Homo sapiens: one gene and its partners. The protein of the gene in region 1 purifies or fractionates together with the protein of each later gene. This does not show direct contact. Each region holds a gene or a part of one and is shown in the gene's direction. Other genes may lie near its edges.

Region 1 (2,518 bases):
TGGCCACCCACCTTTGTCATATACTTGGATTCATGCAAATATTTCAGTTCCCTGAATACCTCAAGCTATTTTCGGTGTGTGTGTTTTTTTTGTTTTTTGTTGTTGTTGTTGTTTTTGAGACAGAGTCTTGCTCTTGTTGCCCAGGCTAGAACGCAAATGTACGATCTCAGCTCACTGCAACCTCCGCCTCCTGGGTTCAAGTGATTCTCCTGCCTTAGCATCCCAAGTAGCTGGGATTACAGGCACCCGCCACCACGCCCGGCTAATTTTTGTATTTTTAGTAGAATCGGAGTTTCGCCATGTTGGCCAGGCTGGTCTGGCCGCCTTGGCCTCCCAAAGTGCTGGGATTACAGTCATGAGCCACAGCGCCCGGCCTATTTTTGCTTTTGAGGTTTTGCTGATGCTATGTCTTTTGCTGGACAGCCCTTTCCCCATATTCTTGGAGATCTCAGCTTCAGTGCCATCTTAGTGAGGACATCCCTGACCACCCTTTGTATAATAAGTAGATCTTCCTCTTTTATTCTTTGTCATAGTCTTTATTTCCTTTATAGCACATATCACCCTCTGTAATTATCTGTTTACTTTTTATATTTCCCACCACATTTTATATTTCATAAGAACAGGGACCTTGACTCTTTTGTTCATTACTCTACCCTTAAAGCTTGGCACCTGTAAATATAAAATGAATGTATGGCTACCAGAAACATCTTCCCACAGTAAAAATCTTTCCAGGCCAGATGGTGGTAGAGCTTTGAAGATCTCACTTTGGTGGAATTTCAAGCAGGACCATGGCCTGGCAGAAATAGTAATCTGAGTTAAGAAATCTAAGCTGCATGAACCCGGGTAGGCCCCTTCCCAGGGCCCCAGTTTCTGTGTCCATCAAAGAAGCTGGAGAATAACTCGGAATGTATACAGTGCAATGCTATTTGCCAAGCTCTTTCACTGCCTGTTATTTCAATCTGTTCTCATGGTAGGCAGAGCAAACATTGTTATTCCCATTTTTATGGAGGTTCAGAATGTTTAAGTAAGCTAGATAAGATCACTTCTGTTTCAAACATTCTGAGTCTTTACAAGTAGCCTCTACAAAAAGTCAGTAGCATGAATCCTATCTTTTCTTTACTTTGACTGTAAATTGTCCTTTCCTAATACAATTTGTAAAAATCCTGAACCATCTTTTAGGGGAAATCCATTGTTTCCTGATAGGTACTCCATTTTGTCTTCTCAGCTTTCCACACTTGGGGCAAAGCAAGCCGCGAGGAGGAACCAGACAGTCCTGTTAGTTGTGGCCAGCCCTCATTCCCTGGAAATGGCAAACAAGGGGAACAAGAAGCGTCGGCAGTTCTCTCTGGAGGAGAAAATGAAAGTTGTGGGAGCTGTAGACTCAGGCAAGAGGAAAGGTGATGTGGCAAAAGAATTTGGTATCACTCCCTCTACTTTATCTACATTCTTAAAGGATCGCACCAAATTTGAAGAAAAGGTGCGGGAGGCATCCGTGGGACCCCAGCGGAAAAGGATGAGGAGCGCTCTTTATGATGACATTGATAAGGCTGTTTTTGCTTGGTTTCAAGAAATCCATGCCAAAAACATTCTTGTGACTGGTTCTGTCATTCGGAAAAAAGCACTAAACTTGGCCAACATGCTTGGCTATGACAATTTTCAAGCAAGTGTGGGCTGGCTGAACAGATTTAGAGATCGCCACGGAATTGCTTTGAAAGCAGTCTGTAGAGAAGATAGTGACAGGTTAATGAATGGTCTAGGAATAGATAAGATTAATGAGTGGCATGCAGGGGAAATTATAAAACTGATTGCTGACTACAGCCCAGATGATATCTTTAATGCTGATGAGACAGGAGTGTTTTTCCAGTTGCTTCCCCAGCACACACTTGCTGCTAAAGGAGACCACTGTAGAGGGGGCAAGAAAGCAAAGCAGCGGTTGACAGCACTCTTTTGTTGCAATGCCTCGGGGACTGAAAAAATGAGACCATTGATTGTTGGTAGGTCAGCCAGCCCACACTGCCTCAAGAACATTCATTCCCTCCCTTGTGATTACCGAGCCAACCAGTGGGCTTGGATGACAAGGGATCTGTTTAATGAGTGGCTGATGCAAGTGGATGCCAGGATGAAGAGGGCGGAACGCCGGATCCTCTTGCTCATAGACAACTGCTCTGCTCATAACATGCTTCCACACTTGGAAAGGATTCAGGTTGGGTATCTGCCCTCCAACTGTACTGCTGTCCTGCAGCCACTGAATCTTGGCATAATTCACACCATGAAAGTACTGTACCAGAGCCACCTTCTAAAACAGATCCTCCTCAAGCTCAACAGCAGTGAGGATCAAGAAGAGGTGGACATCAAGCAGGCCATCGACATGATTGCTGCAGCGTGGTGGTCAGTCAAGCCATCCACAGTGGTGAAATGTTGGCAGAAGGCAGGCATCGTCCCTATGGAATTTGCAGAATGTGACACAGAATCAGCAGCCAGTGAACCAGACATTGCCATTGAAAAGTTGTGGCACACA
Region 2 (3,500 bases), on another chromosome or scaffold:
CTGTCGGGAGGCCATGCAAAGCAGATGTTCACAGCTTTACATTTTTTTGTTTCTTTAAGATGGAGTCTCACTCTATCACTCAGGCTGGAGTGCAGTGGCGCGATTTCGGCTCACTGCAACCTCTGCCTCCCAGGCTCAAGTGATAGTCCTGCCCCAGCCTCCCTAGTAGCTGGGATTATAGGTGCGTGCCACCATGCCCAGCCAAGATTTGTATTTTTAGTAGAGACAGAGTTTTACCATGTTGGCCAGGCTGGTCTCAAACTCCTGACTTCAGATGATCCGCCCACCTCAGCCTCCCAAAGTGCTGGGATTAGAGGTGTGAGCCACTGCGCCTGGCCTACTTTGTTTTTAATAAGGCACACACTCTGCTTTTCTATCTGATGAACTCTTTTTTTTTTCTCCTTTTGAGGATGATGATGACGACATGGGAGAGGATGAAGATGAGGACGATGGTTTCTTTGTGCCCCATGGGTACCTGTCTGAGGACGAAGGTGTGACAGAGGTGAGGGAGTGAAGGGGGAGGTCACCGGCTCAGCAAAAGTTCATTTCTGGACTGGTGCTCAGTGGCCTGACCTGGGAGGGTGACGGGGGTCCCAGCCCAACCATACGAGATTTGGACTGCATTCCAAGCACGCAAGCTCACTCGTGGGAACAGCTGGGCCTGAACTTGGTATTACCTGGGAGGGTGGCAGACGTAGGAGGAGCTTGCAAGCGAGGGGAGCCATAGGAGCAGACACCCTGGTGAGGGAGCGTGGCCATGGTCTGTGGGTTAGAAGGCTGGAAACCACCCGAGCTGACATACAGTCAGCATGCAGCAAGACATGTGCATTGTAAGTGTTGAGTTTGATGACGTAACAATCAAGTGAATGTGGGCAACCACCGCCCGAAATAAAACAGAACTTCCCTATCTCTCCAGAAGATTGCCCACGTCTCTGCAGGCGAACCTGCCTGCCACCCCTTTCCAGATTCCATAAGGTTGTGGAACTGTCTTTTTTTTTTTTTTTCTTGAGACGGATTCTCATTCTGTTACCCAGGCTGGAGTGCAATGGCCCGGTGTTGGCTCACTGCAACCTCTGCCTCCCGGGTTCAAGCAATTCTCCTGCCTCGGCCTCCCAAGTAGCTGGGACTACAGGCGTGTGCCACCACACCTGGCTAATTTTTGTATTTTTAGTAGAGACGGGAGTTCATTATGTTGGCCAGGCTGGTCTTGAACTCCTGACCTCCAGTGATCCACCCGCCTCGGCCTCCCAGAGTGCTGGGATTACAGGCATGAGCCACCGAGCCCGGCAGGAACTTGCTTTCAAGCAAGTTGTTTTTGGTCCTGTTTTGTTTTGAAGGCCTGTCGTTTGGGAAGTGGGGATTTGGTGGGACTGTCTCATGGTTGGACTGGAGGCCTAGGCATTCCTTGTGCATATCTGACCACCGAGGCCTGAACTGTCAGTCAGAGAGTGGTCTCAGGCCCTGCATGTGTCTGCCAGATGCCTGGGCCATGTGGGTAGACACCCAACCCTGTTAAACGGCTCCACGATCACACATTCACCAGAAAATTCAGAGGGGTGTTAAAAGAGGCCTCATGGGTGAGTTCAGAAATATCTGTGACGCTCCCAAAGGAGACCAGGTGTGAATTATTCCATCTGGAAGAGGGGCAGCCAGCGCATGGTGTGCTCTGCCCTGGCCCTGACACTGTGGGAAGTTTTGTGCCCCTGTCCTTTCCTCTTGCTCCCCAGCTGGCTGGGGACTGGTTCCTCAAAAGAGTGCCCGGGCATAGGGGAGCAAGAACCCCAAATAAACTTCTGCTTTCTAAACCACAAGGAGTGTGCCGACCCTGAGAACCATAAGGTCCGCCAGAAACTGAAGGCCAAGGAGTGGGACGAGTTCCTGGCTAAGGGGAAGCGCTTTCGCGTCCTGCAACCTGTGAAGATCGGCTGCGTGTGGGCGGCTGACAGAGACTGCGCAGGCGATGACCTGAAGGTACTGCAGCAGTTCGCAGCCTGCTTCCTGGAGACCCTGCCGGCCCAGGAGGAGCAGACGCCCAAGGCCTCCAAGCGGGAGAGGAGAGACGAGCAGAGTGAGTGTGGGCGGGGCCAGGCCACCCACCTGTTCCTGGGCCCAGCTAATTCCAGGGCTGAGGGCAAGAGTCACAGGCTAGTGGGTCCGTGATGCAAATGTTCTTTCCACAAATAACAGAGGCCAGCCCTTTTCCTGTACATGTCCGTACGTTCAATGATGTCCCTAGCAGCAGGACGAGGCAGGTCCCTTAATTGGCTTGTTTTATCAACCAGGACACAGGCACAGAGAGTGCTGGAGTGGGGGCTGTGCTTTCTCAAAAGCCAGGGAGGGGCCGGGCACAGTGCCTCATGCCTGTGATGCCAGCACTTTGGGAGGCCAAGGTGGGAGGATCGCTTGAGCCTAGTGCTTCGACACCAGCCTGGGCAACATGGCAAAACCCCATCTCTGCAGAAAATGCAAAATTACCTGGGTGTGGTATCACGCACCTGTGATCCCAGCTACTCAAGAGGCTGAGGTGGGAGGATTGCTTGAGCCTAGGAGTTTCAGACCACAGTGAGCCATGATCCTGCCACTGCACTCCAGCCTGGGTGACAGAGCAAGACCCTGTCTAAAAAAAAAAAAAAACTCAAAAAACTGGGGAGGGACCATGGCACACAAGGAGAGCAGGGCAGTCATTTGGGTAGGAACAGCAGGCATTTGAAGTCAGCCCTGGCAACACACGTGCCCGGCCAAGGCTCACTTCTGGGCAGGTGCGTAGGTGCTACCCTGTCTTACACCCGCCCTCATGAGGCCACCTATCCCCGAAGCTGGCCATGCCCCAAGCCTCGGTGGCAATGAGCTTGTGTATGTGTTTTGTTTTTTGGCCTGTGGTGATGGGTGGCTCCCCAAGCCTCATGCCCACCCATGTTCCCTCCTGCCAGTCCTGGCCCAGCTGCTGCCGCTCCTGCACGGCAATGTGAACGGGAGCAAGGTCATCATCCGGGAGTTCCAGGAGCACTGCCGCCGGGGACTGCTCAGCAACCACACCGGCAGCCCGCGGAGCCCCTCCACCACCTACCTGCACACCCCCACCCCCAGCGAGGATGCCGCCATCCCCTCTAAGTCCCGGCTCAAGCGGCTCATTTCCGAGAACTCAGTGTATGAGAAGCGGCCTGACTTCAGGATGTGCTGGTACGTGCACCCGCAGGTGCTACAGAGCTTCCAGCAGGAGCACCTGCCCGTGCCGTGCCAGTGGAGCTATGTGACATCGGTGCCCTCGGCCCCCAAAGAGGACAGTGGCAGCGTCCCCTCCACGGGGCCCAGCCAGGGCACTCCCATCTCGCTGAAGAGGAAGTCAGCGGGCAGCATGTGCATCACCCAATTCATGAAGAAGCGCAGGCACGACGGCCAGGTGAGGTGGGGTGGGCAGGTGGGGGCCTCTGCAGGGCTTTTCTTTTTTTGTTTGTTTTTTGTTGTTTTGTTTTTTTTTCGAGATGGAGTCCTGCTCTGTC
Region 3 (3,500 bases), on another chromosome or scaffold:
TTTATTTGATGTAATTTTAGTAAATAAAATTACGTGTTAGTGAATAAAATTACGCTACCTTCATATGGCTAGTGTCTACATTATTGGACTATGCTATTTTAGTTATTGGACTATGCCATTTTATAAAGTTCTATTAAATATTATATACTTTAGAATTAGAATTAAAATATTTGATATGCCATGCAGTTCAATTCATGGAACATGAGGTTTTTATTATTAAAGGATTGCCTTTATTAGAAAAAAATTTTTTTCTCCTTTTGGAGAGGACCTTGCTTAAGATATGCTTTTGTTCTACCCAACATAGCTAAGCCAAGAATATAATTTTCCTTTGGAATGTAGTAACTGGAATTTGTTTAAGATAAATCTGATGGTGAATCTGCAGAGACTTGACTGAAACAAATGTACCTGCATTGCGCCACAAGTATATAGCCACAAAAATAGCTTGCTCTGGTGTTTGCTGCCCTAGTAATAAAACTTAAAATATGTTCATAATATTAGAATGTACATCTTATAATTTGAACTATTATTAATATTTGGTTAAATATAAGTTTATTAACTTTTCTATTAGAGACTAAAAGCTTCTGAGCAGCAGAAACAATTATCAAAGAGCTTTGAACCCAGTAGATGATTAACAAAATTGCTTTAATCTTAATTAAAAGCTAGCATTGTTGGGATTTTATTTAAATTATTTTAAATCATCTTCAAAGATTATATTCTTTCAGGCCTAGTTTCAGCATACATTAGGTTTTCTTTTGCTAGTTGTTGTTCAGTCATTAGTTATTGTCATTTTTAAGCTATGGTAGGAGATAAGGAATGAAATTGATATTTATGACAAAACTATACTTTTTTAAAACTAAAAGCCATTTTATATATACTATGGGTACTATTGCCCATTCATCTCACTTCTTAAGTTAGTGGATATTCTTGGTGTATTAGTATATTTTACATAAATCATGGATACATAAATTTTGTGAAAATATGTTAGGAAGTTTATTTTATATTTCTTGACTGTACAAAGCAGATATGTATTTGCAATGTGCAAATGGTGACTGTGGGGTTTATACTTAGATTTTTTTTCTTTTTTCTTTAAAGGAAAAAAATAGCACTATCTTTTCTTCACAATTCTGTTGCTTAAGATTGTAGCTTTAAAATGGTCAATTTATTTTAATACTATCAATTGTTACATGATTATTGCAGTTTTGCCAACACATTTCACAACCCCAATAATCATGGAAATTAATCATGCTCATTGTAAGGGAAATGTTTCAAAATGTAGTCTACAAATAAAACTTGGATCATTTTAAACTTTATTTTCAAGTTTTGCAAAATGATGCAGGAGAGCTTTTCCTAAGGAAAACTACGTATGTGAAAAAATTCAACTTGAATTGCTTTGCATTATTTTTCCTTACATGTTAATTCAGTAAGAAATGCTTGTTTTAAGCAAAACTCTCACCTTTGTAGAGAAGCTAACCATGGAAAGCTTCAGCATCAATACATGCTTGAACACAGGTTTTTATAACAGAAACCTGTGTTCCTGGTGTTTCAGTACTCTAGAGTGTGCTATTAGAAATGTGCCTGCAAAGGAGAGATGGATGGTAAGGATGAAGACAAGGAAGTATGAGGACAACCATTACTGATGCAGAACTGTCTCTTCGAAAGTAGGATGAGGATTAGGGAGTTCAATATGTGATCCATTCAGCTCTGTAAAAGAAAAGCTGGATTCCAGATGCTGGGAACATTAGCACTGCATTGGTGAGCATCCTCTTCAGTCTATAGCTCTAGAAGAGAGCACGGATTTAAGCTTAGTGCATATTCTCTGATATGAAAGCTGTTAATCCTAAAAACTACCCATTTTCAGATTTACTTAATACTCAGAAAAAGATTATTTTTACCTATGCCTTTATAAAACATGCTTCAGATCAGAGACTTAAAGACAATGTAGAAGGATTTTTACCTTTTCTAATCCATAAGTTGCTGGGATCTGGACAGCTTTAAGATTTTCCATAATTTTCTTCTAGTCTAGTCATGTGGCATTTTCTCCACACAATTTAACTTAATTTGCTGCTCTTCACAGTCAGCAGTTACTAGCTGGACTTGTGGACTAAGGTTACTTTCCAACTTTCCTACCTATTTCAACCAGTTCAGCATTGACTTCAATGATAGACTTCAGTCTTTCCAGTCCTGGGTTTTGCTCAAATTAGGCATTCTAAGCTGTACTGTTCTTTTGGATGTGAATAGATCAGGACTGGCTAGTAAAATAAAAAAGTAGTCTCTATTTAAACAACAAAACCCAAATCATTTATAAGTCCTAGCTGATACAGATTTTGACTAAAAAAGTGCAGTTGAATGTAATGGCAATTTCTGTTCATTTTAATTGAAAAAATCATTTGGCAAAAATTTTCAACAATCTTACAGGTTTAGTTTATTTAAAAGTATGTTGATCTGTAGGTCTGGATCTGAAAGGGAAGAAACAAAAAAGAATAATCAAGAAAGGATTTAAAAAAACATTTTATTTAAATGTATGTTGAGCTTTTTCGGATCAGGATGGTGCTACAGTGCCTAGGAAAATTAGTATTAAGGCACCATTACTTTACCTCTCAGTATAGCTAGCATCTTTAAAGAATATGTGATGTCACCAGATTTCCTGAAATGGTTTATTCTAAATAATTTCATTCATTCAATGGAAGTGACTTAAAACTCAAACTGACCTTTTATCGCTTTTAAGATTAGTTCACCATCCAAATATTATTTTAGTCTTTTAAATGTTTCATAGAATAAGCATTATACTAAGAAATATTATGTAAGAGTGAAAAGACATAAAACCTATTGAAGAAAAAAATTTTTTTGAGATTTATTACACTTAAGCTACACTCAATTTCCTGGACTTACAGCTGAAATAGGGAATTTTTTTACTTGAAAAATAAATTATTCTTAGTAGGACCAATAATGTATTTTTTGTTTTGTTTTGTTTTGTTTTGTTTTGTTTTGTTTTGTTTTGTTTTAGATGGAGTTTTGCTCTTTTTGCCCAGGCTGGGGTGGTGAAATGGCGCGATCTCGGCTCACTGCAACCTCTGCCTCCCGGGTTCAAGCAATTCTCCTGCCTCATCCTCCCAAGTAGCTGGGATTACAGGAGCCCGCCACCACGCCCAGCTAATTTTTTGTATTTTTTGTAGAGACTGGGTTTCACCATGTTGGCCAGGATGGTCTCGATCTCTTGACCTCATGATCTGCCCACCTCGGCCTCCCAAAGTGCTGGGAAGTAGGACCAATAATGTTAAGTGTCACTTATCTTAATGTAGCATAAACCATGTGCTTCATAACTTGATGTTTTGTTTCATTCACAACCAAGTAAATTTTTCCTACCATTTTATAATACAAACTAAAATCTCCGAAAAGTTTTTTCCTAATGTTAAGAGGTGAGAAATTACTCCATTTTCAAGATAATATAAATGTTTTGACTTCTGTCATTTCTGAATTCTGAATTTGAATCTGCTTTTTTG
Region 4 (3,500 bases), on another chromosome or scaffold:
TCCTGGCTACTGGGGAGACTGAAGCAGTAGAATGGCATGAACCCGGGAGGCGGAGCTTGCAGTGAGCTGAGATTGTGCCACTGCACTCCAGCCCGAGTGACAGAGCGAGACTCCATCTCCAAAAAAAAAAAAAAAAAAAAATAAGGCTTGTCAAGAGTAGCTTGAGGCTGGGTGCAGTGGCTTCCACCTGTAGTCCCAGCACTTTGGGAGGTCGAGGTGGGTGGATTACTAGAGCCTAGGAGTTCAAGACCAGCCTGGGCAATACAAGAAAATCCCATCTCTACAAAAAATGCAAAAATTAGCTGGGTGTGGTGATGTGCACCTGCAGTCCCAGCTACTTGGGAGGCTGAGGTAGAGTATGGGTTGAGCCTGGGAGGTTGAGGCTGCAGTGAGCTGTGATCGTGTCACTGCACTCCTGCCTGGGCGACAGAGCAAGACACTGTGTCAAAAAAAAAATTAATTTGAACAATGCTTGCTAATGTTTTGAAGTACATTATCTGTACATTGTGGAATGGTTAAATCTAGCTAATTACCAAATACATTATCTCACATAGTTATCATTTTTGTGGTGAGAATACTTAATAGCTACTGAGTATTTTTCAAGAATACAGTATGTTGTTAACTAATCACCATGCTATACAGTAGTGCTCTTAAACTTGTTCCTCCTGACTGTAATTACGTATCCTTTGTCTAACATCTTCCCAATCCCCACCCCCGTAACCCCAACCATCCTAACCTCTGGTAACCACCATCTCCTGTCTACTTCTGTGAGATCAATTTTGACTCCATATATGAGTGAGATAATATGTATTTGTCTTTCTGTGCCTGTGTTATTTCAGTTAACATAATGTTCTCCAGGTTCATCCATGTTGTTGGAAATGAGAGAATTTCCTTCTTTTTTATGATTGGAACAGTGTCCCACTGTATACGTATACCACATGTTCTTTATCCATTTGTCTGTGTGGTTTTTTTTTTTTTTTTTTTTGAGACGGAGTCTCACTCTGTCACCCAGGCTGGAGTGCAGTGGCGCGTTCTCAGCTCACTGCAACCTCCACCTCCTGGGTTCAAGCAATTCTCCTGCCTCAGGCTCCCTAGTAGCTGGGATTACTGGCACCCGCCGCCAAGCCCGGCTAATTTTTGTATTTTAGTAGAGATGGGGTTTCACCATATTGGCCAGGTTGGTCTCAAACTCCTGACCTCAAGCAATCCATCTGCCTCGGCCTCCCAAAGTATGGGGATTACAGGCGTGAGCCACCGCGCTCAGCCTATCCATTTGTTGGTTGATGGATACTTAGGTTGATTCTATATCTTGCATATTTTGAGTAGTGCTGCAATAAAATGGGAGTGCAGGCCTCTCTTTGACATACTGATTTTATTTTCTTTGGCTATATATGCAGTAGCAGGATTACTGGATCATACGGTAGCTCTGTTTTTAGGTTTTTGAGGAACTCCATACTCTTCTTTCTCCATATGGTTGTACTAATTCACATTCCCACCAACAGCATGCTTAGATTATCCTTTATCACCACATACTCACCAACACTTGTTATCTGTCATCTTTTTTTTTTTGAGACGGAGTTTGGCTCTTGTTGCCCAGGCTGGAGTGCAATGGCATGATCTCGGCTCATTGCAACCTCCACCTCCTGGGTTCAAGCAATTCTCCTGCCTCAGCCTCCCGAGTAGCTGGGATTACAGCCACGCACCACCATGCCTGGCTAATTTTGTATTTTTATTAGAGACGGGGTTTCTCCATGTTGGTGAGGCTGCTCTCGAACTCCCAACCTCAGGTGATCTTCCCACCTTGGCCTCCCAAGGTACTGGGATTACAGGCGTGAGCCGCCGTGCCCAGCCTTTTTTTTTTTTTTTTTTTAATTGAGACAGAGTCTCGCTCTGTCGCCTAGGCTGGAGTGCAGTGGCGAGATGTCAGTTGACTGCAACCTCCACCTCCAGGTTCAAGCGATTCTCCTGTCTTAGCCTCCCGAGTAGCTGGGATTACAGGCACCCGCCACCATGCCTGGCTAATTTTCATATTGTTAGTAGAGACATGATTTCACCATGTTGGCCAGGCTAGGCTGGTCTCAAACGCCCGACCTCAGGTGATCCACCTGCCTTGGCCTCCCAAAGTGCTGGGATTACAGGCGTGAGCCACTGCGCTTGGCCTCATCTTTCATCCTTTTGATTATAGCCATTTTAATGGGAGTGAGGTGATACCTCATGTGGGTTTTTTTTTGCATTTCTTTGATGATTAGTGATGTTGAGAATTTTTTTCATATACCTCTTGGCCATTTGTATGTCTTTTGAGAAATGTCTATTCAGATCTTTTACCCATTTTTACATGAGGTTATTTTCTTGGTATTGAATGGAGTTCCTTATATATTTTGGTTATTAACCCCTTATCAGATATATAGTTTACGAGTATAGTGAACCATTCTGTATGTTCTCTCTCTCTTTTTTTTTTTTTTGGTGGAGTTTCGCTCTTGTTGCCCAGGCTGGAGTGCAATGGCACGATCTCAGCTCACTGCAAGCTCTGCCTCCTGGGTTCAAGGGATTCTCCTGCTTCAGCCTCCTAAGTAGCTGGGATTACAGGCATGTGCCACCATGCACTGCTAATTTTGTATTTTTAGTAGAGACGGGATTTCTCCATGTTGGTCAGGCTGGTAATAAACTCCCGACCTCAGGTGGTCTGCCTGCCTCAGCCTCCCAAAGTGCTAGGATTACAGGCGAGAGCCACCGCGCCTGCCAGTTCTCTCTTTATTGTTTCCTTTGCAGTGCAGGAGATTTTTAGTTTTATGTGATCCAAATTGTCTGTTTTTGCTTTTGTTGAGTGTGCTTTTGAGGTCATATCCTCCAAAAATCATTGCCCAGACCAATGCCATTGACTTTTCTTCCTGTTTTCTAGTAGTTTCATAGATTGCCTTTTTTTTTTTTTTTTTCCTGAGACAGTCTCAACCTGTCACCCAGGCTGGAGTGCAGTGGCATAGTCACGGCTCGCTGCAGCCTCAACTTCCCAGGCTCTCACCTCAGCCTCCCGAGTAGCTGGGACTACAGGTGCACGCCACCATACCTGGCTAATGTTTTGTATTTTTAGTAGAGATGGGGTTTCGCCATGTTGGCCAGGCTGGTCTCGAACTCCTGACCTCAGGTGATCCACACGCCTCGGCCTCCCAAAGTGCTGGGATTACAGGTGTGAGCCACCATGCCCAGCTGCACAATGCCCAATTTTGCCACTTCTGTTCAACATAATACTGGAAGTCCTAGAAAGAGCAATAAGACAAGAGAAAGAAATACAAGGCATCTTAATTGGAAAAGAAGTTAAACTGTTCCTGTTTGCAGAAGACATATGATGTCAGTGTTTATTGTTATAAAAACTTCTGTCTTAAAACTGCTTTTGCTGTATTCCATAGGCTTTGTATGCTGTGTGTTTCAGTTTTCATTTTTTTCAATAAACTTCCTAATTTGTTTTTTAATATCTTCATTGACCTATTGGTTGTTCAAGAGCA

The links. Proteins that work in one complex are often made in the same cells at the same time.
Region 2: the proteins of TIGD6 (region 1) and CHAF1A purify together in Homo sapiens (affinity purification with mass spectrometry; one large-scale study listed by BioGRID and IntAct). This does not show direct contact.
Region 3: the proteins of TIGD6 (region 1) and MRPL13 purify together in Homo sapiens (affinity purification with mass spectrometry; one large-scale study listed by BioGRID and IntAct). This does not show direct contact.
Region 4: the proteins of TIGD6 (region 1) and UBE2V2 purify together in Homo sapiens (affinity purification with mass spectrometry; one large-scale study listed by BioGRID and IntAct). This does not show direct contact.

Annotation. Positions count from the first base shown.
Region 1 is NC_000005.10:149,995,137-149,997,654, reverse strand, and holds part of TIGD6 (tigger transposable element-derived protein 6), read left to right. Parts: intron 1-1,225; 5' UTR 1,226-1,306; coding exon 1,307-2,518.
Region 2 is NC_000019.10:4,430,140-4,433,639, forward strand, and holds part of CHAF1A (chromatin assembly factor 1 subunit A), read left to right. Parts: intron 1-409; coding exon 410-502; intron 503-1,812; coding exon 1,813-2,068; intron 2,069-2,930; coding exon 2,931-3,400; intron 3,401-3,500. UniProt on the Homo sapiens protein: Acts as a component of the histone chaperone complex chromatin assembly factor 1 (CAF-1), which assembles histone octamers onto DNA during replication and repair.
Region 3 is NC_000008.11:120,407,151-120,410,650, reverse strand, and holds part of MRPL13 (large ribosomal subunit protein uL13m), read left to right. Parts: intron 1-3,500.
Region 4 is NC_000008.11:48,014,931-48,018,430, forward strand, and holds part of UBE2V2 (ubiquitin-conjugating enzyme E2 variant 2), read left to right. Parts: intron 1-3,500. UniProt on the Homo sapiens protein: Has no ubiquitin ligase activity on its own. The UBE2V2/UBE2N heterodimer catalyzes the synthesis of non-canonical poly-ubiquitin chains that are linked through 'Lys-63'. This type of poly-ubiquitination does not lead to protein degradation by the proteasome.